Linked DNA regions of Homo sapiens. The protein of the gene in region 4 interacts with the protein of the main gene of each other region in a biochemical or structural test. Each region holds a gene or a part of one and is shown on either strand. Other genes may lie near its edges.

Region 1 (3,500 bases), on a different chromosome or scaffold from region 4:
TCTACATCCAATGGAGCATGAATTTTATGAGGACAATGAGTATATTTCCAGCTTGCCTGCTGATGCAGACAGAACAGAAGACTTTGAATATGAGGTAAGGTCATTTTCATACCACTTCACATTTCTTCATGAAGTTACGGTTGAGGGGTTTTGTATAACAAAGAAATTAATTTATTACAGTGAGAAATGTCTTGTCTATTACATATCCAGTGTAAGATCTTTCAAATACTATTTGCTTTAGCTATGTGGCTCTCGTGTTTTAAGTATATTGGAAAATATTTTTATAGTATAAGCTTAAATATAATTTGCTCTCATTTTGTTGCTTTTTAATAAATAATATTGCAACAGCTACATTTTTAAAATCTGTTCTATAATATATGTGGATTTCCAAGTGGAGTTTGAAAAATATATTTAAAACAAAGATTGTGTTTACTATTTTCATTTGTTGTATAATATTCTAATTTTCATTGATAAACTAAATTTTATTATATTGTATTCTTTGGAAATGCAATACTCTCTTTGTGCCTCTGGTCTGTACTCTAAAGAGCCATTTCACAGACTTCCTAGAAATAGAGATGGCCTCATGCCCTTTGTTGTTAAACTATATTTATTCTTCACATGGTTTAATGTCAGAATATCTGTACTGTGATATATAACAATTCGAAAAGTCCATCCATTGATTATTTAAAAGCTCTCACAAAAGTTAAAGAATGTATCCTAATATTTCCTCTGCTTCTGCAGCCTGAATATCTTTGAAAGGTTTCAGACTACTCTGACATTTAAAAATAAAATAGATTGAGGAAGTAAAGAAGCTTTGGTAAACAGGCAGAGAACCCATGGTCACCTGCCCTTTTAATGCTTCAGGTGATGTCATACAAGTTCAGCAAAGTGTTCTCTTCCACTTTACAACCAGGAAATCCTGAAATCTCTTCCCTTAGGAGGATCTGAAATCAAATAAGGAAGCTCATCTAAAGCAAATGGACGTTTGTTTGAAATCTTCTCCCCACAAAAGTCATTCCTGGGGATTACAGAAATCATTATTTCTTTGCAGCCAAAATTTAGAAGGATGTGAAATGACAACTGGTAACTGAGTAGATGGTTTTTGTCATTCTTGTGTTGTTCATGTTAAATTTTTACCTCCTCTTTATTAAGTTGATTGAAAAGTTTTATTTTCTAAATCTACTCAAGCACTGACATGCATTACAATATCCATTGCTTTGTCTATTCATGTAAAATAAATTATAAAATTGAATGACTTATCCAAATAATTCAAGATTCTTATGTTTTCCTTTTGGTTAATGAATACTTTCAGTTTGGGGACTGGAATTATGTAGATCACTTCAACTTTTTATTTGGATGCCTTAAAGCTTTATTAAAATAAGTCAGTGTGCTCGGGGAGGGCATAGGGGAAGATTGTTTAGGCTAAGCAAGTTAACAGTAAAAGCCCTTTAAATGAATCAGCATGTCATTGAAATATTACAATACAGACAGATTTCCTTACATTTCTATGGAGCTTACTGTAACTGAACCACAACCTCTTTTTTGACCAATATTAATCCCCAGCAGAAGCCAGCATCAGGATGATGTCAGTGGTGAATTCTCAGACAAGCTCTCTGTAGCCTGTAATCTCAACTAATCACAGCATCATAGTCATTAATTTGCTGTCAGCTGTGATTCCGTTGCCAAAGGCTCCTTTCTGAGTGATTGAAATAAAGAATGTTCCTGTGAAATTCAAATAAGGAAGGAGTTGCTATGACAGTTTTCAATCATTAGAAAGGATGCATTTGAGAACAACATGCATGGTTAAAGGTGGGAGTGGAGGCATGGGAGAATACCTCCAGAGAAATTTACCAGATTCAAGAGAGAATAATGGTTCTGCCCAGTACTCCTCAGTCTGTTATCATTATGTGACACACACATAGAGTGGCACATGCCATCCCTTGTGGCTGCATCAAACTGCAAAATCTAGTCAGTCCACTGCCATCATTGGAGCCTGTGGTGGACACCATTAGGCTCATTCAGTGAAGAGATTTAGAAATGCTAATTCTGTCTATGTGTTGCACTTTTACTGTTACACCTAGAAGCAGACTGATCTGGTGTTTCTGTGACCAGCTGAGATGACCCTAGCTCCTCTAGGAGCTTCCTTATAACCCTATAGCTCTAGGAGCGGGATGGATGAGCACCTTAAGGAAGTACCAGTTTTGTGCCACTGAGAGAATATCACAGGAAAGTGAGGTTTAATGGCCAAGAAGACTTCAGCTCAGAAAGAGATATGCATTCCTCTTCAACCTAAACATGAGCACAACCAGGCAATCAAGGAAGTAGAAAGAAGACTCCTTTTTCATCTGCTTTCATTCATTTGTACCATAAATATTTAATGAGGACTTAAAATGTACCAGGCAGTTATCTATGCATGGGATTAGGAAGCTCCTGCCCCAGTGGAAGGAGCTTCTAGGAGAGGGAGGTCAACAATAAACATAAAAGTAAAGACATATTCTTTTCAATGGTGAGAAGTACTAATGGAAAATAATAAGAGTGGTGTTGGACAGGATGTTGCTGTCTTATACAGAGTGGTAATGCAAGACTTCTCTCATAAGAGAACTAAAGAATATAAGAGATCTAGCCATGTGAAAGGAGATTTTCAGAAAGAAGGAAGGGCAGGGGCAAAGGACCTGAAGCAGAAGCATGCTGGGGTGTACAAGGAGTAGCAAAGAGACCAGTGAGAGAGTGGAAGGGGTGAATTCAGAGAAAGGAGGGTGTGTTTTGTGGAGCCTTTGGCTTTGACCATGATATAGGAAGTTGCTTTGACTCTGAGATGGGAAGTTGCTGGAACATAGGAAAGCCATAACAGGATTACTCCAGCTGCTGGTCTGAGACTGACAGGAAGGAAGCAAAGTCAGCTGAGAGGGAGTGGGGTATTGGACCTGGGCGGTGATAGCGGGTGGAGTATGTATGACATAATCTAGGACAGCATCCACCCCAGCCTGGAGGGCTGTGCCTCAGAGCTTCAATATAGTTTGTGCTATGGCAATTTTCTTCTGACATTTTAATGGCAAAATATTACAGGTTAGAGTGAAGCACACCTTTTGGCATCCACCAGAGCAAGAGCAATGCATCCACACTTTAAAAGAAATAGCTTCTAGTATATAGACTGCATTTCTGAACTTGCTAAAATACAAACTATGCGGCTATTTAGGTGCCTTTTTAAAGACCTACTTACTATTAACTCAGTGAACCAAAGCTGATCTGTGTATCTCGTGAGTACTTATATACAGACTTAGTGCATGGATTATTAACCCAATAGACCAAAACAGATCTGACTATCTTGTAAATACATATTTAGGGACTTTTAACACACATATTATTTCACTGATGGACTGTAACAGGTCCCTTCAGAGCCACGGCAGACAAGCAAATGCTTCTTTGGAGATATTATACTCAGTGTCCATGTTATGGTGACTCTGGTGTGTTAGGAACCTCTATGAAAATTTAATGACACC
Region 2 (3,500 bases), on a different chromosome or scaffold from region 4:
ACACATAATAGTCAGAAGAACTTAGAAGTTGTTCTGACAAAAGTCTGTAGGAAATTCTGTTATGAACAAAATGTTGTTATAAACAACAGCTACACACCATCCCCCAAAATAAAGAAAAATTCTTCTAGCACTCTTTGAACCTTAAACAGTGTTTTAGTAGGCCAACTCATTGTTTTTCTTCTCTCTGAAAAATTAAAAATGCTAACTGTTATGATGAGTTCCACAGAAAAAGACAATTTCCATGACTTCATTTCTTGACAAAGAACAGCTACCTCTCTTGCTTTCTGCCACATACAAGCAAACTCCCAGACATAAAACCTCCCCTCAGAGGAAGCAATATGGGACCACAAAAGTATCTTGAGGTCTGCCCTATCTGCCCACGGGAAGCCTCCCCCTCACTGTGAGCTGTGAGCACTGGCTGCCTGGGAGGAGCAAGGTGTGGGAGAAGAGATAGCGACTGTCCCCCCATGTGCTCGCCGACTGTACTGTCACAACCTCTCAGGGTGGCTTCTGCCCTGTCACCACTTGATCTGGATTCTCTCTCCAAAAATTTAAAAAAACAAGGCGTGCCTGTCTTTTATAATGCTCTGTTTTAAGAGAGAGAAATCTCCAGGGAGAGAACAGGACCCTAAAAGTCCAAGGCCTGGAATTCTTCCTTTCTCTCTTTCCATTTTAAACAGGAAGCATTCATGCTAAGAGAGTCCGGAGGGAGGGCTGGTTGTATGTTCATTTGAAGGCAAATAATGTTTGTGTGTTGCAAATGTCAGTGATTTATCCTAAGGGCTTAAAATGAGTGCAGAAAAACCACATGTTTCACTTCATGCAGAGAAATATCTTCAGTGGATTTTGAGAGAAAGTACAGGTTAAGAAAAATTTTTTGAGTGTATCGGATATCTCCAACATGAACCAAAAGGAAATGAAAATGAGCATGGTGAGGTGGAGGAGAGAGACTTAAAGAATTCTTATGATAAAAGATATACCGAAGGCTGGAAGTTTTCTAAATCAAAAATGAAATTCTAAAGAAAGGGAAAGGTGAAATCCAGAGCCTTTATTTCCCATGGCTAGAGTGACAGATTATCCATTTGTGCTCCATTTGTCATGGGCGATTTAAAATACAGCAAAGCAAACTGCACTGAATAATAGCAGCTGATGCTATAATAACTTGTACACAAACAATTTAATTTTTTATCTGAAAACTCTAACTAAATTACCCCAAGCTCAAGGATCTTTCATTATTATACATAGCCAAATTAAGACAAAAAAGTAGAGAGAATTCTATTGTTCATCCTTATAGATTTGTTCACAAGCTGCTTTCTACATGCACCGAGCTGGGAGCTTGTCAAATCTTCATTGATTTGAGCAACTTACAGAGCTGTTTTAACATCCACCTCCACAGATTACAGGGTGATTCTGACCCTCATTGACAGTGCTTGATTAACCACAGACACTGTATTCTCACAGCCCTGTCATTTCTTTCAAGTGTCCTAGCAGTGTGTCTGACATTGGGGAGCTTTCCCTTAATTATTGTTGTTGTTTTTCTTTTTTAAAAATTATAAAAGGGGGAGTGGCAAAAAAATGGGAAGGATCTGGGGATGGTGGTGGTGGTGAATGTGTGCACAGAAGGTTTATGAGATTTTAAGAGCTGCAAACAGAACTCATCTGTTTAACCCCAGGCTAGATAAAATGCAGTCATCTGCACATTGTTTAGAGGCACACTGCTTCTGTTATGGCAAACGGATCAGAAGATGCTTGTTTTCTTTAGTGAGAGATCCAGACAGGGCCACTTTCTGTTAGTGTCTATTCTTACCCTGGATGTTTCTGTGTGCCTTACCCATTACAAGGTACAACTTACAGCTGGTTTGGCATTTCCCTATTCTGCTACTGGACTGGTGCTACTTCCTGGCTTTGTGGTAGAGTTGATTACTTTATATCAAAGCTTTAGGTGTGGGCTGGGTGCAGTGGCTCACGCCTGTAATCTCAGTACTTTGGGATGCCGAGCCAGGCAGATCACCTAAGGTCAGGAGATTGAGACCAGCCTGGCCAACATAATGAAACCCATCTCTACAAAAAAAAATACAAAACTTAGTCAGGTGTAGTGGTGGGCACCTGTAGTTCCATCTACTCGGTAGGCTGAGGTGGGAGAATCGCTTGAACCCAGGAGGCAGAGGTTGCAGTGAGCTGAGATCGCACCATTGCACTCCAGCCTGGGTGACAGAATGAGACTCCCTCTCAAAAAAAAAATTAAAAAAAAAAAAAGAGCTCTAGGTGCTCTGGCTTGGGACTTTTTCTAAGGACTGTAGAGCATTTAGGGAGGGGAGGGACATATGAATCCACACCAAGATGTAACAGCAGCCAACCAGAGTTAGACCAAGATGACAGCCCGTTTAAAAGAGCACCTCACAGATTTAGAAAAGCGAGTGCAGTCCATGGAAACTTTATGACTCCAAATAACCTGAACATTTCTATCACCATGCCTAGGACAGACTTCAGCCCAGCCTGTCCTGGATATGGTGGTAGAAAAGGGGAGGGAACTAATGACCCCATCCTTAAGAGAGGCAAACTCACTGCCTTGTTTAGGAAACTAGTTTGGTTACTATAATAAAGGCCAACAGAAAAGGGTATAAACCAGATTGAAGTGTATTTTCCTCTCATGCACCAATGTGAATGGAAGCAATCCTGATTGACATGGTGGCTCCATGGCAACGGGGACCCAGGCTCTCACCTTCTTGTTGCTCTGCCTCCCATAGCACGTGGTTTTCACCTTGTGGCCTAAGATGGTTTTTCTGCTGGCCAACAGGAAGGAGAGAAGGGAAGAAGTTCCCTTCTCTTCTTTTTAAGGGCACGTATCACTTCTGCTCCCATCCCATTGGCCAGACCTATGCGGTGGCCACACCAAACTGCACAGGAGGCTGAGGAACATGTTCTCCAGCCGGACGGCCAGCTTAGGAGCTGCTAACATGTGTCTCTTCTTCTCTTTCCAGGGGAGGACCCGCAGATCCTGTAGACTATCTGCCAGCAGCACCTCGGGGGCTCTACAAGGAAAGGGAGCTTCCCTATTATCCAGGGGCTCATCCTATGCACCCTCCCAAAGGGAGCTATCCCCGCCCCACAGAGCTCAGGGTGGCAGATCTCCGGTATCCTCAGCACTACCCACCCCCGCCAGCTCCCCAGCACAAAGGACCCTTTCGACAAGACGTTCCGCCTTCCCCTCCCCAGCACCAAAGAATGCCAGCCTATCAGGAAACAGGCAGACCAGGGCCCCGTGGGGGCAGCCCAGACCAGTACCCTTACCGAACCCAGGATTCCCGGCAGAAGAACCCCATGACTGCAGCCGTATAGCTGAGTGCCACCGAGGCCAGCCCGGTCCAGAAAGGAAGGTGTCTACTCTACCTTTGCCCTTTCTAAACCTGAAGACCTCCTTGGTGTTAGGAATTCTCCATGTTACTGATAAGCTTTTTCTCACTGACATTGTAACGCATGACTGCTAATCAGAGAGAAAA
Region 3 (3,500 bases), on a different chromosome or scaffold from region 4:
TTTAAATTTTAGCGTCCATAAATGAAGTTTTATCAGAACATAGCCATGCTCTTTGTTTTGTCGTATCTATGTCTGCTTATGCACAAAAATAGCAGAGTTGAGTAATTGCCACGGAACCCATATGTGGACATATTTACTATCTGGCCCTTTACAGAAAATTTCTTGACCTCTAGACTAAATAATGCATGAAAGCTAGTCTGATTTAGAAGATTCAAACTCCCTCTTGACTCTATAATAGCAGTAGGCACAAAAACAGAATACAGCAGAAATATTACCCATATATGTAAGCATTAATATAATAAAACATCTTAGATTGGAGGAACCGATAAACAGTACAAAATTACTACATGGCCCATAGCTAACCTCAAAAGCTTATGTGCAAGTAGCACAGAATACCAGTTCCTTACCTTCATAATGCAATGACACCTGACATTTCTTTCCACTAAGTTGGACCCTTCTTTGCACACTGTCATATATTTTTTAATTGAACATAAATTACAATAAATTTTGATAAACTAATTTTTAAGCATATCACCAAATCTAGATGTGCAACTTATTGCAAAGCACAGAAACTAATAGTTACTGATCACCTATTAAGTGCCATAGCTTCTAAAAGATGGCTTCACAGTACGTAATTTAATCCCCACAGCAAGGCTACATGGCTATTACTCTCCTAAATCTGAGGCTCAGAAACTAAGTTGCAACTTGTTCCCAGTCACCTTGCTAATGTGTGGCAGAGCAACATCCCACCTCAGGATTAGTGTCAAGCGCCATGCTTTATTATCCTCAATATCACTCTTGCATTGGGTTAAAAGTCCCTGATACAAACTACATAGATTCCAAAATTATATACAGTAATGTTATGCTAGAAACTTCAAAGAAAATGCTTAGATCATACTTCACCAGGGAGGCAGAGGAATTTCCAATAGGATAGGCTGGGTTTAGTTTTTTGCCCCCAGATGAAATAATCACCAGTACAAAGGCAATCAAAGTACCAAGAATAAAACATCATAGAATTTCATACATATTTTAAATTTAGTAGCCATTATTGACCTTCAGTTGCAAGACATACATCTAAAATATGTTGATATTACGGCTGATGAGGTTGCCATTTGACATTACTGGCCAGTCAAAGGTGAGAATGAATCTCTATTGACAGCAATTATTTCTGAATACTCAAAGGCTTGGATGAAATAAAAGTATTTAAAATTTTACAGGGCGATGATTTCAGAACTTCAGGCAGAGGCAGAAATGATTTCAAGCTTTCAAGACACTGCAGCCTTTTCTAAGATTAGGCAATATATTAATATTGCTTCACTAAAGATTAATAGTACATTTGCCACATTATTAAGTTAACATATTTCTGTGTCTGTGATTCATGCCGATAATAACTTTATTCCTATTAACAATAATTCTCATTTGAAATCAGTAACAGAAACTTCCAAGTTGTGCTGGGAGCCTTTCAGTCTTAGAGTTGTTCCGCTGCCAGCACTTTTTGTTAAAACACATCATTCATTTTCCTCCGATGGGGGATCCATGCTTAATAATTTTATTGAAGTAGGGCAGAACTAACTAATGTTCCTTTAACTCTTGCCATCTGTACTCAGCCAAAACAATCCTTGTTTACTATGCTAAGGGTCAAATTAAAGATTGGGAGATAAATGATCACCAGGACACGTTGTCTACAGAAAGAATCTCAGTGAAAATGTGGTCTTGTCCTGTGTTTGCGCAGTTAACATGGCAATAGGCTCATTTTACAATTAGTGGACTTGGTAACAGCTGTACTGACACCATAATACTGATTCTCCATATATACCCTCTTGAATTGTACAATTGAGTCTAGAGAAGGGGTTAGCAAATGTTTCAAATGAGAAGTTATCATCTGGATATTTGAGCGAGGCTGCTCTCCCAGGATGGTGGTGAAGCAGGGATCCTAATGCAGCTCTTGTACCATACGAGTTTGGAGGATCCATTCCTCAAGAAGACTTGGTTGACTTTCTGTCTATGACACTCAATAGCTTTGTGTACCACTGGGAATTAAAGAAATACTATGCGCTACTAAAGATCATGATGGGCCGGGCACGGTGGCTCACACCTGTAATCCCAGCACTTTGAGAGGCTGAGGCAGGCAGATCACGAGGTCAGGAGATCGAGACCATCCTGACTAACACGGTGAAACCTCATCTCTACTAAAAATACAGAAAAATTAGCCAGGCGTGGTGGCGGGCGCCTGTAGTCTCAGCTACTCGGAAGGCTGAGGCAGGAGAATGGCGTGAACCTGGGAGGTGGAGCTTGCCGTGAGCCGAGATCACACCACTGCACTCCAGCCTGGGTGACAGAGCGAGACTCTGTCTCAAAAAAAATAAAAATAAAAAAGATCATGATGAAGCTGATGAAGCTGTAACAAAGCTCATGTACTAGAAAAGTGAAGAGACACCTCTTTCATGTGACATCATCCCTTGGTTCTGATATCACACTCGGTTGCCAAGAGGATTGGAATACACTAAGAGGCTCCAAATCAGTGTTAGAGTTTTAGTTAGCATTGGGGTTATTTTTAAAATGAAGAAATTCTAACAATACATTGAGGATTTGGGGTGGAGCACAGGGTTTTTTTTTAAAAAAATTGTATCTTTCACTTTATCATGCAAACCTTTTTCATGTTGTTTCCTTTATGGAATTCTAGCATCACGTAATTAGTTTGAAGGGAGGGCAAAGACACAAGGTTTTTTTTTCCTCCCCCTGTTACTTAGTTCACATTGGAAACAAAGCCTCTCTAAATAGCCCCCTCAAAGACAGCCTACAGCAATTAACACGTGTCCACATTGGGCCCCTCTTCTTAGGAAAAAGTCGTTTCTATATTGCCACCAAACTAGATGCTTTTTAAAGAATCTATTCTAGCCTCATTTTTTTCATCAGGGTAAAAACAGACGTCTTTAGTATTTTTTACTGGTTTTATATTAGTGTTCATGAAGAAAAGTCATTTTGCTTATCTACAGAATTTAAGTTATTTGGCTTTTTATGTGTCATCTTAAGCACAAAATTGGGGCCATCATTACTTTTCATAGAAAAATTAAGAGAGACTAAATGATGATAGAGTATTTCATGAGTAATGAGTACTATTGTCAATAGACTAGACAGAGCTCCTACCACCACAGATGAAGACCCTTTATCAGCTCATAACTGGGAACTTGAAAAACTAGGCAACATCCAGCTCATCCATCACAGAGTACGTGCAAGAGGGTAGGCCTCTGGTGGACGATGCTTTCTTCAAAGTTAAACCCCTGTCTTAATGCATGGATGTTTCCCTCTCGAATACAGATTCCTTCAGGATATTATCTGCAAACTATGAATTCCAACCTGAATTTGGATGGATTTCTTCTGCCGATTGCAGTAATGAATGCCATCAGCAGCCTACCATTACTAATTCTGGCTCCTTTTCTGGAGTATTTCAGCACCTGCCTGTTTCCCTCTAAGAGAGTTGGATCATTTCTGTCAACATG
Region 4 (3,129 bases):
AAGGTCCAGGGGAAGGGAGGACAAGATGGAAGGAGTGAGAGGACAGAGGTGAGAGATGAGGTGGTGGAGCAGGGCCACAGAAAGGCTCTTGGGCTTCTCTATCCTGGACCTCAGCTGTTCTTACAGGGATTCATGGCCACATCTGTGTCTCAGAAACTTGCTCTGATGGCCCCATGGACCCCAGACCTTAGGGGTAGGGGTACATGTTGCCATAGACAAATGAGCCAGGTTTGCCACAGGCCAGGCAGAGGGGAGCAGCAGGGTGTGGGCCTCAAGCTCATGCATGAGGCCCAGCCTCCCTCAGAGGTAGCAGTGCCAGGATGACGTGGTGGGGAGGGGGTTCAGTCTTCCAGGAGAGGCTCAGGGCCGGTGGGCCTGGGAGGCTGGCGACTGTAGAGCAGCTCCCCCTGCCCCCACACTTGTTCTCATTGACTCCCTTGAAGACCAGGCTGCCAGTGGCTCAGACTGGAGAAGGAGGGAGTTTCCACAAGCACCAGGGCAGCCCCTCAGCTGCTGCCCCACTTTTGTACTTAAAAGGTCATGGGCTCCATGGGTGGTGACAAAAACACCCCCACCCCACCCCTGCAGGGCTGAGTCCTTGCTAACACAGACACAGGGCCCATTGTCCCCATGCTGCTCCCACCCTCTGCCTGAGTGGGGGTGTTGGGGAGGGGGTGGAGCTAGCTGGAGCCATCGAGGAGGAGGAAACCACAGTTGGCCCTAGGACCAGCACAAGGTGCCCTGGCACACATCCCCGAGTGGGATGGGACAGGGCCAGCTGGAACTTCAGGCCCACCTTCCCTGTGGGGCGATAGGAGAACCTCCTTCTCTCAGGCCTCTTGTGGGAACACAGGAGGCACTTGGCCTAGCCCAGGGTGGAGGAAGGATAGTAACTTATTACTATCCTTCTGGGTTAGTAGGGTTTTCTGGAAGGAGTGGCAATTATGCTCAGAACCAGGTGATGGGGAGAAGCAAGTCAGGTGGAGCAGGCAGTCCTTGCACACTCAGCCTGTCCTCCCCAGACCAGCAGAGAGCTAGAACTGAGCCTCTAGGAGATGGCACCTGCTCATCTGGACTCAGCGCCTGCCTCCATCCAAGTTGAGTGTCCCAAAGCAGGTAGTTACCCCCATCCTGCTGAAAAATCCACTGAGGCTTCAACAACCAAGTGGGCAGCAGGCTGGTTCTCAGAGCAGAGGAGCATATGGTACGAGGTGTACCACCCACAGAGGGGGAAAATACAGGACTGGGGGCCCAGGAATTCCCCTGACAGCCATTCATCCAACAAGTATGTGCTTTATGCCAGGCACTATGCAATTGTCTTATTTCATCTCCACAAGGAACCTGATGTGGAAAGCATCACATTCCCCAGCTCATAGATAAAGAAACAGGTTCAGAGAGGTGAAGAGACTTGCCCAGTTAGGGGATAACCCTGGGACTCAAACTAAAACTGAGGTAGCCATGTGTGTCCTAGCCACAGAGTTCAGGCCTAGAGAGGCAGCTGCATGGGTGACCGTGGGAGGGGCAGTGGCTCTGATGGCCCTGCAGTGGACCCCTGCACCCTGCTGGGTAGGGGTGAGTGAGGGCCTCCTTCCTCCCAGTCCCAGTCCCTCCAACTCCTCCCTCCCACCAAAGCCTCTGCCCGGAGGCTGAGCCCCACCCCCACTGGCCACAGCCCATCTGGTCCCCATTAGAGGTCAGCCCTGCCTGCATGCTTGCCCGACAGACACACGTGTGAGAGCGCTCACGTTTCTCAGGGGCTTTTGTTGGGCCTGATGTGGATAGGGGTTTTCCTGTTGCTGCTGCATTGATGGGGGCCACCTGGGCAGCAAGACCCTCCTGTTTGTCTGTTGGGGTGGGGGAAATGGAGGGGGGCCCACCCAACTGCTGGTCTGCCTGTTCCCCAGGTTCCCACCCTACAAAAAGCAGGGGGTACTCAGGGCAGAACCCCACAGGCTCAACTATGCCTCAGAGCTTCCTAAGTCCAAACCAGGGTTCTTCCCACTACGATAGGCATCCTTTCCTGTCCACACTGGGCTCTCTGACCACACTGTAGAGCAGAGGAGGTTTACACGTCACTCCCAGGCTGAGGCTAAGACCTACCCCATGGCCTGGCCTCAGACATCATCCTAAAATCAGGCTGCTCTGGCTACTAGCCCAGTCTCAGCTATGGAGGCCACTATGGCCATTCCCAGGGTGACCAGTGCTGGCTCCAAGTCTCTGTAACCATGCGCATGTAGTTAGTTGTATGTAGGGAGATTGGTAGGTGCATATGTGTTGTCCTTATGTGTGTGTGTGTGTCTTTAAAGCATAATTGTGAGAGTGTGCATGCCCCTGTTTACATTGCTGTGGGGTGCTTGTGTGCACTTGCAAGCTGGGAACTGCACAGCTCTGGACTCTGCAGGGACAAAGATCCCCAGTCCCCACTCAGACCCCCACACACAGAGATACTGCCCTCTCCTCATGGCTGAGGGGGCAGGTTCAGGACACTCCCACCCAAAATGTTTCAGCCATGGGCACCAGGCTGGCTGTGGGGTAGTGGGGCAGAGAGCCTTGAGCCCTAGCCTGGTCTCTGCCCCTCATCTGCTGTGCCTGCAGAAGGCTACTCATTGTGGCCTGGAAAGCAGGAAATGGGGGACAGGTGTAGGCCCAGAAGGGGCTGACCTCACAATGGCACTCTTGAGCCTCAGCCTGCCCAAAGGGCCTTGGACACATGACAGTCAAGGACCCTTTCTGACTGTAGGACAGGAGTTACGTTTTTTGAGTTCCCAGCCATGGGCCTACCCAGTACCCACCACAGTTCAGGAAGGTGAGAAGGCTTGGCACCAGGGCCACCTCTGCCAGGAGGCCACATACTCTGCTGTAGCCACACAGACCTTAGGCTTCTTGGGATAGGCCTGCCCCAGTACTGTCCCTTCCTGAGTGGTGGTGGGCAGAACCACTGCAGGGCTCACAAGCCCAGGCTGAGTCTCAGCTGCCCAGGTTTTTGTGTCTGACTTTCCAAGGACGTTTCTCATTTCTGCAGGGGCATAACCAGTCCCCAGGCCCAGCCCTTCCCCAGAAATCCCTTCCCTGGCTGAGCACCACAGGCCAGAGATGCCGAAGCAGAGGAAGCCAACTGACATCCACCAC
Region 5 (4,038 bases), on a different chromosome or scaffold from region 4:
ATGAAAGGCTGAAGTAGGCTACAATCCAATGCAAGGTTGCACATAAGAAGCTCTGAATAAGTGTAAACATTATGTGCATTCAAAACAGTAACATTAACTGTGGACTCTGGAAATAAGAAAAGGAATCGTGTTGGAGAGTGAGACTGAGCCAGTTGGGAATAGACAAAATTACATTCTCAAGGGAGAATTTCATTTCTTGGTGAGGAAAATTATGCCCTTTGGGCTGGTAAATACTGTCTCCTCTTGAATAAAACAGTGGTCTGGCCACCTGTTAGACACTGAGAAGTCTAGACTAACACTCAATGTATTCGGATGTTTGCTCACTATTTCCGATGGAAAAGTCTGGTTTGATTGTTAAAGTAAAATATTTGGCCTTTCAGAGTGTGAAAACACCATTGCTTCATTGCAAGGTTTAATATAAACCCATTTTTCTTGCATTTTCTTTTCTTTCTTTTGTAGTAAAATGTGCTTGAATAATATTAACTATTCTGACCATTATGTGAACTAAATATATATATATATAAAATGATGATACCTTCCGCTCATTTGCAATGTGCTTTTGAATACATTATATAATTTAATCCTTAAAACAGCCCTATAAATCTGTTTTTTTTTTTTTTAAACAAAAAAATTCTGCTTTACAAAGGAAGAAGTTGAGACTCAGTAAAATTAAGTGACCATCCCAGAGTCTCAGCCACTTAAGAGTAGGGTGAATCTTGGATAATTCTGGTAGCAAATTTATTTATTGGTAGAAAATAAATGCAAACTACTACTGCTTAAGATCCTCTAAAGTTTTTCTCTTGGAAAAAGAATGTATTAGAATTGTGGACTTTCTCAGTGCAAGGATTTATTTATCCTTGGAATTAGGCAGAATAAACAATTGAATGCCAAAAATTCAACGTGTTTCTTTTCTGTTTTCAAAACTCATAGAAATTGTAAATATGAGCAACTGATCATGTCTCTGAGAATTAACTCTTTTTGTACAGAGCGCTGCAGAGCTTTGATTGTGACCTGATACTTGGTCCTTAAAGATTCTAGAACACCAATGGAAAAGAAAACCATGTAGCAAATTAGCCCAAGAACCGTTAAAGACAAAACAAAACAAACCAAAACCAAAACACACAAACAAAGAAAACACAAGGATCCCAGTGATGTCCCTAAGGAATAGTTGGCTTAAAAACTTTCTGGAAGGAGGAGGGGTCTCTGTTATAAACTTCCGCCCTCCTCTGGCTTCTGTTCCTTACCCTCTGCCCCCTGCGGAGTTGTGTTTTCTGGGAATCAGCAAGTAAGATCACAAGTGGTCTTTTCTTTTATTCACTCTCTCCCATAAAGAAAGCTTTATCACGTGTGGCCTTAAACTTGCAGCAAATTGCAAAGAAATGGCTCAAAAGCTTCAGCTCTTTCTGTGCCCTGGGAGCTGAGATGCACGTCAGTGGCCTTGCCAGCGTGGCCAATTCTCTGCTGACTGCCAGAAAAAAGAGGCCAGGAAGAAAGAGGAAAGAGAAGAGATCGCTCAGGGGTGAGACCATGCCCTTCATCTTTTCTTTTCCCTAATCTCCTCTGCTTGTGTCCACCCACACTCTCCCCACCTGGCAAAATTGTTCAAAATTGCTGTGGAGTTTACCTCAGTTTCCTCTTTCAGTCTGTGGTGTGTGGTCCATCCTCTTGCTGAGCACATTGAAAGGAACTGGCTATCTTTGATCTCTTCCTCCAGGTAAGACTTGGTTCTCTCATTTTATATTTTGTGACTAATACATCAGATTCTTATGGGAGATTAACCCTTAATTTCTGTGCGATTTATGTTTTATCCATAAAAATATCAGTGAAAGGTGATGATCCCCTCATTAGTTTGATGGAAATAAGAGAGAAGATTGGTTAAAGAAATCAGATAAACTCAAATTTGAGTTCAAATTTTGAGTCTCATGCTTATAAATTGTTTAGCTTTTGACAAGTCACTTAATTGCTTTGGGCCATCTAATTTAAAAAATGGAATTCTAATATTACGTTTGTTGGGTTGTTTTAAGGATTAGAAAAAGTACGTACATTACTCAACACAAAAATAGTACTTATTAAATCTGAATCTGACACAGATAATTTGTATTAGGTGAGAAATTAGTTTCTAAACAACACACACTCCTCTGCAGCAAGTGCCGTGAGGCTATTTTTTAGTTTGTCTGAAGGGAGGCATCCTGGTGTCCAGAAGTCAAGCCAGGACAGAGGTTTTCCTCACAGGAGATGGCCAAGAGAAGAGAGGGAGGAGCGTGGTTGCCTTTAGGACTTTCTCTGTGGCAGTCCTTGGGGACTGATTGCTGGACAGAGTCCGAGTCAGTTGCAGAGCAGAGGGGTTGAGTACATCTGCGGGATCTAACTACAACCTTCCTAAGCCACTTGCTCTCTCCATTTAAAATCTGGAGGGCTGATTTTGAAACTAATGAGGACTGATTATTCAATGTTTTTGAACCAAAGGAAGAGAAACTGCTTGGCTTGTTTTTCTTTGGCCTCCAGAATAAGTTATGCTCCAAACCCAGGGTATTGGATGAAAACTGTCGTATGTCTTTTCCTGGAAGAATCTATTCAAGTGGCCAGAGATCAATTAAGGATTTGCCAAATGCAAATAATTCTGAATAACTGTGTACTCTTGCTCTACTTCTGCAGTTGCAAATGAAGAGAGAGAGCCTGCAGGCCCCAAGGATCTTTCCGTTCATGTCATTGAGCTTCCTTCCCTCTCTTTTTACAGGGGATGAACTGTAGCCTCCTTGGAACATACTACACTTGCAATAATTTGCGCATTAACCATCAAGACACTTCAGTAAAGCTATGCAGTGCCAATAGTTTAAGCTGGATCCTATTTTGCCCTAACACAAAGTGAACTGAGATGACTATATTTATATTTCATTATACTTTTGAATTTTAGTTACAGTGATTTTTGTGTCAACACCTCCATATATTAGATAACTTAAAATGTGCTATAGTATCTCAAGTTTTTCAGTAGTGTTTTTAACATAATTATTTTTTCTCTTTGACATTAGCATTCTAGATGTAACACTTTGGATCTTTTAAAGATAAATTTAGGATAAATGATAGCAGATTTTATTATTAAACAATTTATTTGTATTTTCTGGTCACTGACTTTAATATTATGACTGATGAGAAATAATATGATATCTGAATCCCCAAAAACAGAAGGCCAATTTGAATTATATAATTTAATCCTTTGAAGAATATTGCAATTTAAGCCAGAAATTTAATAATTATCCGTTTCTTATTTTAAAACCTTTCTGGTTTGTATATCTCTTGCTTGGCAATATTTTTACTCATAGTTTTGTAGTAAAGATACCTATTTAACATTGTATAACTCTGCATTTCCCAAACCCTGTTTTCCTTGTCCTGGCAAAATACTGTTCTAGAAAAGTAGTCCTAGTGACTCAGTAGATATAGGAAGTTGGCTGTTGGTATCAGATACTGTTAAGGAAGAATCTCTATATTCTTCATTTCTTAAACTTTGTTTTTTAAATCAGTAATAGATGTCGAATTTTATCAACTGATGTTTTTCATGTAATGAAATTCTATTTTTTATTTTGAATTATTCATGTGGTAATTTAGGTGAATAAATTTCCTGTAATTAACCAATTGTTGCATCTTTTAGAATAATTCTAATCATAGAGCAAGAGTTAATTTGGATTTGCTAGCATTTACTTAGAATTTTTATAATCTATGGGCTTGATCTGAAGTTTTCCTTTCTGTGCTATCTTTGTGCTGTTTTGTTACCAAGATAATGTTATTTTTGTCAAACTAATGGAGACAATGATTATCTGTTTCCATTATCGGCTATCTTTCCTCAAAGAATATCCCTTGATAAAGCACTTCTGGTGCATCATCTATCCTTAGTATCTTTGTTTAGGGAATAGTTTCAGAGTATTTTTGATAATGTCTTTCTTGGCTATTTTCTCTTCTGGTTTTTATCAATATAGGTAATGAATATTTGCTAGAAACTTATCCATTAAGTCAAGATATTAAACTTACTTCAACATTCGATGC
Region 6 (3,500 bases), on a different chromosome or scaffold from region 4:
AGGCGCTCGCCACCACGCCCGGCTAATTTTTTGTGTTTTTAGTAGAGACAGGGTTTCACCATGTCAGCCAGGATGGTCTCAATCTGACCTTGTGATCCGCCCGCCTCGGCCTCCCAAAGTGCTGGGATTACAGGCGTGAGCCACCGTGCCCGGCAGCCTTGGCTAACTTTTAAAAAAATGTTTTTAGTAGAGATGGGGTCTCGCCATATTGGCTAGCCTAGTCTTAACTCCTGGGCTTCCACCTCAACCTCCCAAAGTGCTGGGATTACAGGCATGGGCCACTGCACCCGGCCCTTAGTTAATTTCTGGACCAAGGAATTGGAATCTGGGGTCTTTCAGGAAACGACTGGGGATTCAGCAACCTGCCAAATTGAGCCTTGGAGCAGCCTCTGAGATGTTAGCTGTGGAGGAGGAGGCCCCTGCTTCCTGGGGCCCATCATCCATTCCCAAAAGTGCTGAGCATTGCAGGCTCTTCAAGAGCTGCGGTCAACACCAGCTCCAGGCCTCGGGCTGGAAGCCTCTTCAGCAAGTGCCGCAGGGAGGCCCTGGGTGGGTGAGCCGGGAGGTAGAATTGCGTAACAGCTCTCTATCCATTGCTGCGGTCATTAGCCATGGAGAGGGTGACGGGGGCTGTAACGGGGCAAGCCTCCCGGGTTCCAGCTGCCATCCTCGCCCCTCTGGGCTCTTTCCTCCCTGGCTCTGCTGCAGCCGGAGCGGTTGCAGGGCACACATTACTCGGTGCAGTCGGACATCTGGAGCATGGGCCTGTCCCTGGTGGAGCTGGCCGTCGGAAGGTACCCCATCCCCCCGCCCGACGCCAAAGAGCTGGAGGCCATCTTTGGCCGGCCCGTGGTCGACGGGGAAGAAGGAGAGCCTCACAGCATCTCGCCTCGGCCGAGGCCCCCCGGGCGCCCCGTCAGCGGTACGGCCTGAATCTGCAACTTCCGGTCTGGACGCGCAGTGCCCTGCGCGGGGCCTGCTGTGCCAGGGTCAGCAGCTGCCTCCCCTCTGCCCCTGGCGCACCACCTGTCCCCCTGGATGGTGCCGACTGTGGTCAGCAGTCCTCCCATGGTCCTGGGGTTTCCGGGGACAGAGCTGGAAGCAGTGAGCACCCCAAACCTGTTCTGTCCGGGGCAGCTGCACCTGTTGTTGCCAGCTGGAGGGATCTGGGAGCGCAGCTTTGCCACCAAGCCCCTGGGCAGTTGGATTTTCCAACATTTTATCCCGAAAGCATTCAAACGCACAGAAAAGTGGAAGGAATTGGCCGCCACAGAGCCTGCATTCTGCAGGTGACACGCTCCTGTGCTGCGGGCCAAGCCTTCCAGGGAGTCCTGAAGTGGAGATTGGACTTGGCATGGCCCTCAGTGGCCTGTTGGCTCCGGCCCCAACACACACAGGAGGGGACACAGCCCGGGAGGGGGCGGGAGGGCTCAGGCCCCAGGGACAGCTGGGCTCGCAGAGGACAATCCGGCACTTAGGGCGGGCACCTCGGGAGCGGGAGCTCCCTGACGCCAGTCAGAGAGGGCCGAGCGGACACTTCCACCGCCTGAGGGAAGAGCCGGGGGCGGACCCTGCTTGGTGCAGAATCACAGGAGGGTCCTGTGATTTTTTTTAAAGTCAGACATCAGGGAGAGTTGGTGGCGTCAGACCCCAAAGGACCCTGTAGCGGACTGTGGTTGGTTTTAAAACCATGTTTCCGAACTACAAAGCACACACCCCACAACTCATTTCAGGTGAGCAGTTCAGTGGTTTTCAGTCACAGTGCTGCGCCCCATCACCTCTAATTCCAGAACCTTCTCAGCTCCCCAAGAGGAAACCCTGTCCCCATCAGCTGTCACTCTCCATCCCCTTCCTGCCTCTGGACTGGCCTGTCCTGGGCATTTCACAGAAATGGGGTCACACACTTGTGTGGCCTTCTGTGTTTTGTGTGTGGCTTCTCTCCTGGAGCGCAGTGTCCTCAAGGGTCATCCACGCCATGGTGCGTGTCAGAGCCTGGGTCCTTTTGAAAGGCTGAGTAGTATTTTATGACACGAACAGGCCACGTTTTGTGGTCCTACCCGGATGGATTGGGGCTGTGAGAAGGAGATTTTCATAGCACTGGCAAGCCCACCTCCTCCTCTCCAGCCAGACTGCTGGGATGTCTTGATCTCATCCCAGGGAGAGGCCCCCAAGTCCTTATCCTCAGGCCTAGCCTCAGCCTCTCCCAGTCCCAACTCTCAGGTGGTATACCATCCCCAGCCCAGGGCCCCAGCCCACCTGCCCATTTCAGGACGGGCAGAAGGCGAAAGTCCAGCTGCCAAGCCCAGGCCTGGCCAGCTGGTTCTCAGACAGGGGTCAGCCACCCCTAGCCAGTCTCCCGTCCTGAGTGGCACTTGGGGCCTGCCCCCATCACCGCCAGCAGCTCCATGCAAGGTCACGCGGCTGTCCTTGCCTGCGGTCAGCACCGTCCCTCCCCCTGCCCTCCAGAGAGGAGGGGTGATGACTTTGGCACGTCCGGCAAGCCTCACCGAGCCAAATGTGTGACTTCTCAAAAAATGTTCTTGTTCCTTTTGCCTTTTTTTTAATTCACTAGAGGCTCAGGCAAGGAGTAGCTGTCCCAGGGAATGGAACCCAGAGTCAGGCAGGGGAGCTTTGTCCAGTGCCTCTGCACACCCGCCTCCAATTTAGGCTGGCATGTGGAGGAGGGCGCCTGGTGGTGATCAGCCCCCTGGGAGCCCAACCCCCAGCAGAAGTGAGGTGGCCATCGGCCCATCTCACCTCCATCTCTCTCCCTGTGCAGGTCACGGGATGGATAGCCGGCCTGCCATGGCCATCTTTGAACTCCTGGACTATATTGTGAACGAGGTTTGTGCTTGATGCCTTTTGGCTTTTCTTTTCCTTTTCTTTCTTCTTTCTTTTTTTTTTTTTTTTTTTTTTTAGGCAGAGTCTCTCTCTGACCAGAGCAAGAGTCACCAAGGCTGGAGTACAGTGGTGCCTTCTCGGCTCACTGAAACCTCCACTTTCCAAGCTCATGTGATTCTCGTGCCTCAGCCTCCCGAGTAGCTGGGATTACAGGTGCGCACCACCACACCCAGCTAATTTTTTTTTTTTTTTTTGAGACATTGTCTAGCTTTGTAGTGCAGTGGCTTGATCTCAGCTCACTGCAACCTCCGCCTCCCAGGTTCAAGCAATTCTTGAACCAATTCCACGTGTGTCGCGTCTCCCATCTTCTACTGTGCTGCACAAGCCCAGCTCCTTCCCAAGGGCATTGTTTTTTTATGAAGACGAACCCAGAATTCCCACCGCAGCCTCTCACCCTGAGTCCAGAGGGAGGTGTGTGCCAGCAGCCCTGGGCTCAGGCCGAGGAGCCAGCCTGCCCCTTGAGCAGTGGCCCAGTGTCTCTGCATCAGAGCGTCCTGGCGCCCGTGGGCGTGGACTCATAAATCACCCCGCTTCCACGGAGAAAGGTACAGGAATGGCCCTTGCCTCTTGGAAGGAGGCCCAGAGAGCCTAGAAGGACC
Region 7 (3,500 bases), on a different chromosome or scaffold from region 4:
GTTGCCTGTGCTTTTATTTATTTATTTTCTGAAACAGGGTCTCCCTCTGTCACACAGACTGAGTGCAGTGGTGCAATCACAGCTCACAGTAGCCTATACCTCTTAGGCTCAAGTGATCCTCCCACCTCAGCCTCCAGAATAGCTGGGACAACAGGCACACTCCACCACACCTGGCTAATTTTTTTGTTTTGTTTTCTGTAAAGACAGGGTCTCACTATGTTGCCCAGGCCGGTCTTGAACTCTTGGGCTCAACTAATTCTCCCACCTTGGCCTCCTAAAATTCACAGGTGTGAGCCACCAAACCCAGCCCAACTTGTGCCTTTATATTCTCACAAACCATCTCCCCCATGAGGCAGGAGACCACAGAGAAAGACCATCCTCTCTCATCAGAACAGAGTCCTGCAGCTACATCACCTGAGGGCGAGCACCCCCTGATGCCCAGGGCCTGAGCCAAGGCTCTGCCCTCAGGTTCCCTCAATGGCCTGCCTGGCTTCACAGGGACCTCCTCAGAAGGGCTTGGCAGGATTCTGGGTTTACAGGGATTAAAAATCAACCCTGGCCAGGCACAGTGGCTCACGCCTGTAATCCCTGTACTTTGGGAGGCCGAGGCGGGTGGATCACCTGAGGTCAGGAGTTTGAGACCAGCCTGGCCAACATGATGAAACCCCGTCTCTACAAAAAATACAAAAATAAATTAGCTGGGCGTGTTGGCGCATGCCTGTAATCTCAGCTACTCAGGAGGCTGAGGCAGGAGAATCGCTTGAACCTGGGAGGCGGAGGTTGTGGTGAGTTGAGATTGCACCACTGCACTCCAGCCTGGGCAACAAGGGCAAAACTCTGTCTCAAAAAAAAAAAAAAATCAATCCTGAGGCTGGACACGGTAGCTCATGCCTATAATCACAGCAGTTTGGAAGGCCGAGGCGGGCAGATCACTTGAGGTCAGGAGTTTGAGACCAGCCTGGGCAACATGGTGAAACTGGTCTCTACTGAAAATATAAAAATTAGCCGGGTATCGTGGCACATGCCTGTAGTCCCAGCTACTCGGAAGGCTGAGGCAGGAGAATCGCTTGAACCTGGGAAGTGAAGGTTGCAGTGAGCTGAGATTGTGCCAGTGCACTCCAGCCTGGGCGACAGAGCAAGACTCTGCCTCAACAACAACAACAAAAGTCAGCCCTGACTGGCTCACCAGATGAGAGGCTGTACTCCTCCGTCTTTGGTGCCACCTGAGATGGCAGCAAGCCCACTGTGCAGGTAGATGGAGGCCTGGCCTGCTCAGCAGCTCAGAACTCACCTCCAGGATGAGGTCCCCTGGCACGAGGCCGTCAGGACCCTTGGCAGGACTGTCATCCTCCACCTCGGCCACAAACACCCCATGCAGGTTCCCACCACACAAGTGCACCCCAAGCTCCAGCTGGGACTTTTTGATGAAGACAACGCGTGGCTCCAGGGTCTTCTTGTTGGCATCTCCCGCAATCCTTTCAGGAAAAAAACAAAGTTCCTCAACTGTGCACAAAGAGGAGGCACAAAAAGACAAAGCAGTGGCCAATGCCCTAACCGCTTTCTGCCTGCTTCTTGGGGTCTCAGAACCACAGGGAGCTGAGAGGTGGCCTCTAGTTCTACTGGCTCGGCGTTCGGGACAGGATGCTAAGGTGCACTGGAGATGAAGGCAAGACCCCAGGTCCAAAGCCAGTTAGCGGGGGCAGTCAAAACCGTAAATCAGTGCCCCTGCTCCCAGGCCCGGCTATCAATCTCATGCCTTAAAGATCAGGATGGCCTCCCTCCCATGTGGATCACACTCATTTTCCTAACTTAGTACTTCCTAAGGAAAGGTAAAGTTGGCCTCACTGTCCAGAGCACAGCAATGTATTCAGCAAATGTCTACGAAGAAGCTTCTATAGACCAGCAACTGCTAACTTGTGAAGAGGGGCCCCTTGCCATCAAGGCACTTACAATCAAGGAAGGGAAGCTGAAAGTAAGCTGCTGAACACATGGAGGGAGTGAGATGGGACAGCGATGGAAACAGATACAGGGGGCTTCAGGGGAGATGCCAGCCCGGGAGGAAAACCTTGCAGCAGGTAAGTTCCAATGTGACAGACTCTGGTATAGAGAATGCAGAGCTGGCCTCATTCTGTGAGATGCTGCCCAGGGCTTGGTGAAGGCCTCTCAGTGCTGGAGACACAGCTCCTCCAGGACGGCAGAGTGATCATGTCACACCATGGCCTGGATGGCCCTCCCTGCAGCCCCAGGCCAGGCTGGACGCTGTGCAGCTCCCATGGAGCTCCTTCCTCCTCCTGAACTCTGCTGCTCCCTCGGCCTGGACTTCTCTTTATGCCCACTCTTGGCTCTTGCCTGTCCTGAACATTTTAATCCAGCTGCCACCTCCCCTGCCACACTCCAGTGATCTTCCTGCCTGCTCTGCGGCGGCCGGCAGTGCCCTCCCAGCACCCTGACTCTGCTGCACGTGCCCGGCACTGGTCTGCCACCTCATTGGGGGAAGCACTGCTGTGGGTGGCCAGAGCCCAGGGCCTGGCCGGGTGATGACTGTGGGAATGTGTCCAAAGACAGACTCAGAAAGCGAGTGAACAAGAAAAGGAGAAGAGAAAGAGAAGATGCAGGGGAAAAAACAAGTCAATAGAAAACAGGAGAAAAAGAGAAAGGAAAAGAGAGAGTAGGGAAGGAAAAAAGGAATGCCGTGCTCCCGGCCCAACTCCTGAAGACCTGGTGTGCGGCCTGCAGCACATGAGGCCAGCTGCCCAGTGCCCACGCCACTTGGAGAATGTGCTCAGCCCCACCCAGCCGAAGCGGACACAGGGAAGGCTCACAGCAACGTCTGCTGACCTGGAGCTGCTCTGCTTGGCTGGGGGGGTGCTAGGCCCCTCGTCCTGCTCCATCAGTGGGTCGATGACAGATGGATGCTCCGGGGTGGTGGTGCCACTGCCCTGGAGAGTGGAGTGGGTACCGGCAGGGTCCAGGTGTGAGCTGGAGGCGGAGGACAGGAGGGATAAGGAGCAGTACGAAGCCACCCAGAGCCACCCCCACTCCTGTGGCAACTAGATCTGAGCTATAAATGGGGACCAGGTCACATAGCCCTGCACCCTGTGCCCTGAGCAGAGCAGACACATTAGAAGCCTGGACCCATGACATCCACCTGTCCTCTCCCCTCCACCTGTCCTCAGCTCAGGGGCCCTCTCCAAAGGCATCTGACCTCAGGAAGCTGTGAGCATCCTGTCTCTTTTCCTCTGCCTGTGCATCCCATCTCTCCTGCTGAGCTTGTGGCGCAGCACTGCAGGGCATGCCTCCCCTTCTTTTCTGCCCTTCAACCCACAGCTCAGGGGCAGATACAGACAGGTGTACAGCATCTGCTCCTGGACAGGGAGCCAAACACTTTGAGTGAGAATCCACCCCCGGGGCCACAACTCCTGGCTACCATGGGCCCCTGCTGGTCAGGGGGACCACAGCCATCTGTTTCCACACCCCATTTCAGGAGGAGACAGCCTCTC

What was found.
Region 1: the proteins of PDLIM4 (region 4) and PDZRN4 interact in a test that uses a peptide from one of them, tested with the Homo sapiens proteins (one large-scale study listed by IntAct).
Region 2: the proteins of PDLIM4 (region 4) and PARD3B interact in a test that uses a peptide from one of them, tested with the Homo sapiens proteins (one large-scale study listed by IntAct).
Region 3: the proteins of PDLIM4 (region 4) and SLC15A5 interact in a test that uses a peptide from one of them, tested with the Homo sapiens proteins (one large-scale study listed by IntAct).
Region 5: the proteins of PDLIM4 (region 4) and SLCO1C1 interact in a test that uses a peptide from one of them, tested with the Homo sapiens proteins (one large-scale study listed by IntAct).
Region 6: the proteins of PDLIM4 (region 4) and MAP2K2 interact in a test that uses a peptide from one of them, tested with the Homo sapiens proteins (one large-scale study listed by IntAct).
Region 7: the proteins of PDLIM4 (region 4) and DLG5 interact in a test that uses a peptide from one of them, tested with the Homo sapiens proteins (one large-scale study listed by IntAct).

The regions. Positions count from the first base shown.
Region 1 is NC_000012.12:41,509,820-41,513,319, forward strand, and holds part of PDZRN4 (PDZ domain-containing RING finger protein 4), read left to right. Parts: coding exon 1-94; intron 95-3,500.
Region 2 is NC_000002.12:205,612,475-205,615,974, forward strand, and holds part of PARD3B (partitioning defective 3 homolog B), read left to right. Parts: intron 1-2,981; coding exon 2,982-3,339; 3' UTR 3,340-3,500. UniProt on the Homo sapiens protein: Putative adapter protein involved in asymmetrical cell division and cell polarization processes. May play a role in the formation of epithelial tight junctions.
Region 3 is NC_000012.12:16,239,686-16,243,185, reverse strand, and holds part of SLC15A5 (solute carrier family 15 member 5), read left to right. Parts: intron 1-3,318; coding exon 3,319-3,500. UniProt on the Homo sapiens protein: Proton oligopeptide cotransporter.
Region 4 is NC_000005.10:132,267,696-132,270,824, forward strand, and holds part of PDLIM4 (PDZ and LIM domain protein 4), read left to right. Parts: intron 1-3,129.
Region 5 is NC_000012.12:20,694,094-20,698,131, forward strand, and holds the start of SLCO1C1 (solute carrier organic anion transporter family member 1C1), read left to right. Parts: upstream 1-1,238; 5' UTR 1,239-1,714; intron 1,715-4,038. UniProt on the Homo sapiens protein: Mediates the Na(+)-independent high affinity transport of organic anions such as the thyroid hormones L-thyroxine (T4), L-thyroxine sulfate (T4S), and 3,3',5'-triiodo-L-thyronine (reverse T3, rT3) at the plasma membrane.
Region 6 is NC_000019.10:4,096,623-4,100,122, reverse strand, and holds part of MAP2K2 (dual specificity mitogen-activated protein kinase kinase 2), read left to right. Parts: intron 1-708; coding exon 709-922; intron 923-2,779; coding exon 2,780-2,844; intron 2,845-3,500. UniProt on the Homo sapiens protein: Catalyzes the concomitant phosphorylation of a threonine and a tyrosine residue in a Thr-Glu-Tyr sequence located in MAP kinases. Activates the ERK1 and ERK2 MAP kinases.
Region 7 is NC_000010.11:77,808,256-77,811,755, forward strand, and holds part of DLG5 (disks large homolog 5), read right to left. Parts: intron 3,366-3,500; coding exon of another isoform or gene 3,329-3,365; exon of another isoform or gene 3,214-3,328; intron 2,980-3,213; coding exon 2,839-2,979; intron 1,476-2,838; coding exon 1,292-1,475; intron 1-1,291. UniProt on the Homo sapiens protein: Acts as a regulator of the Hippo signaling pathway.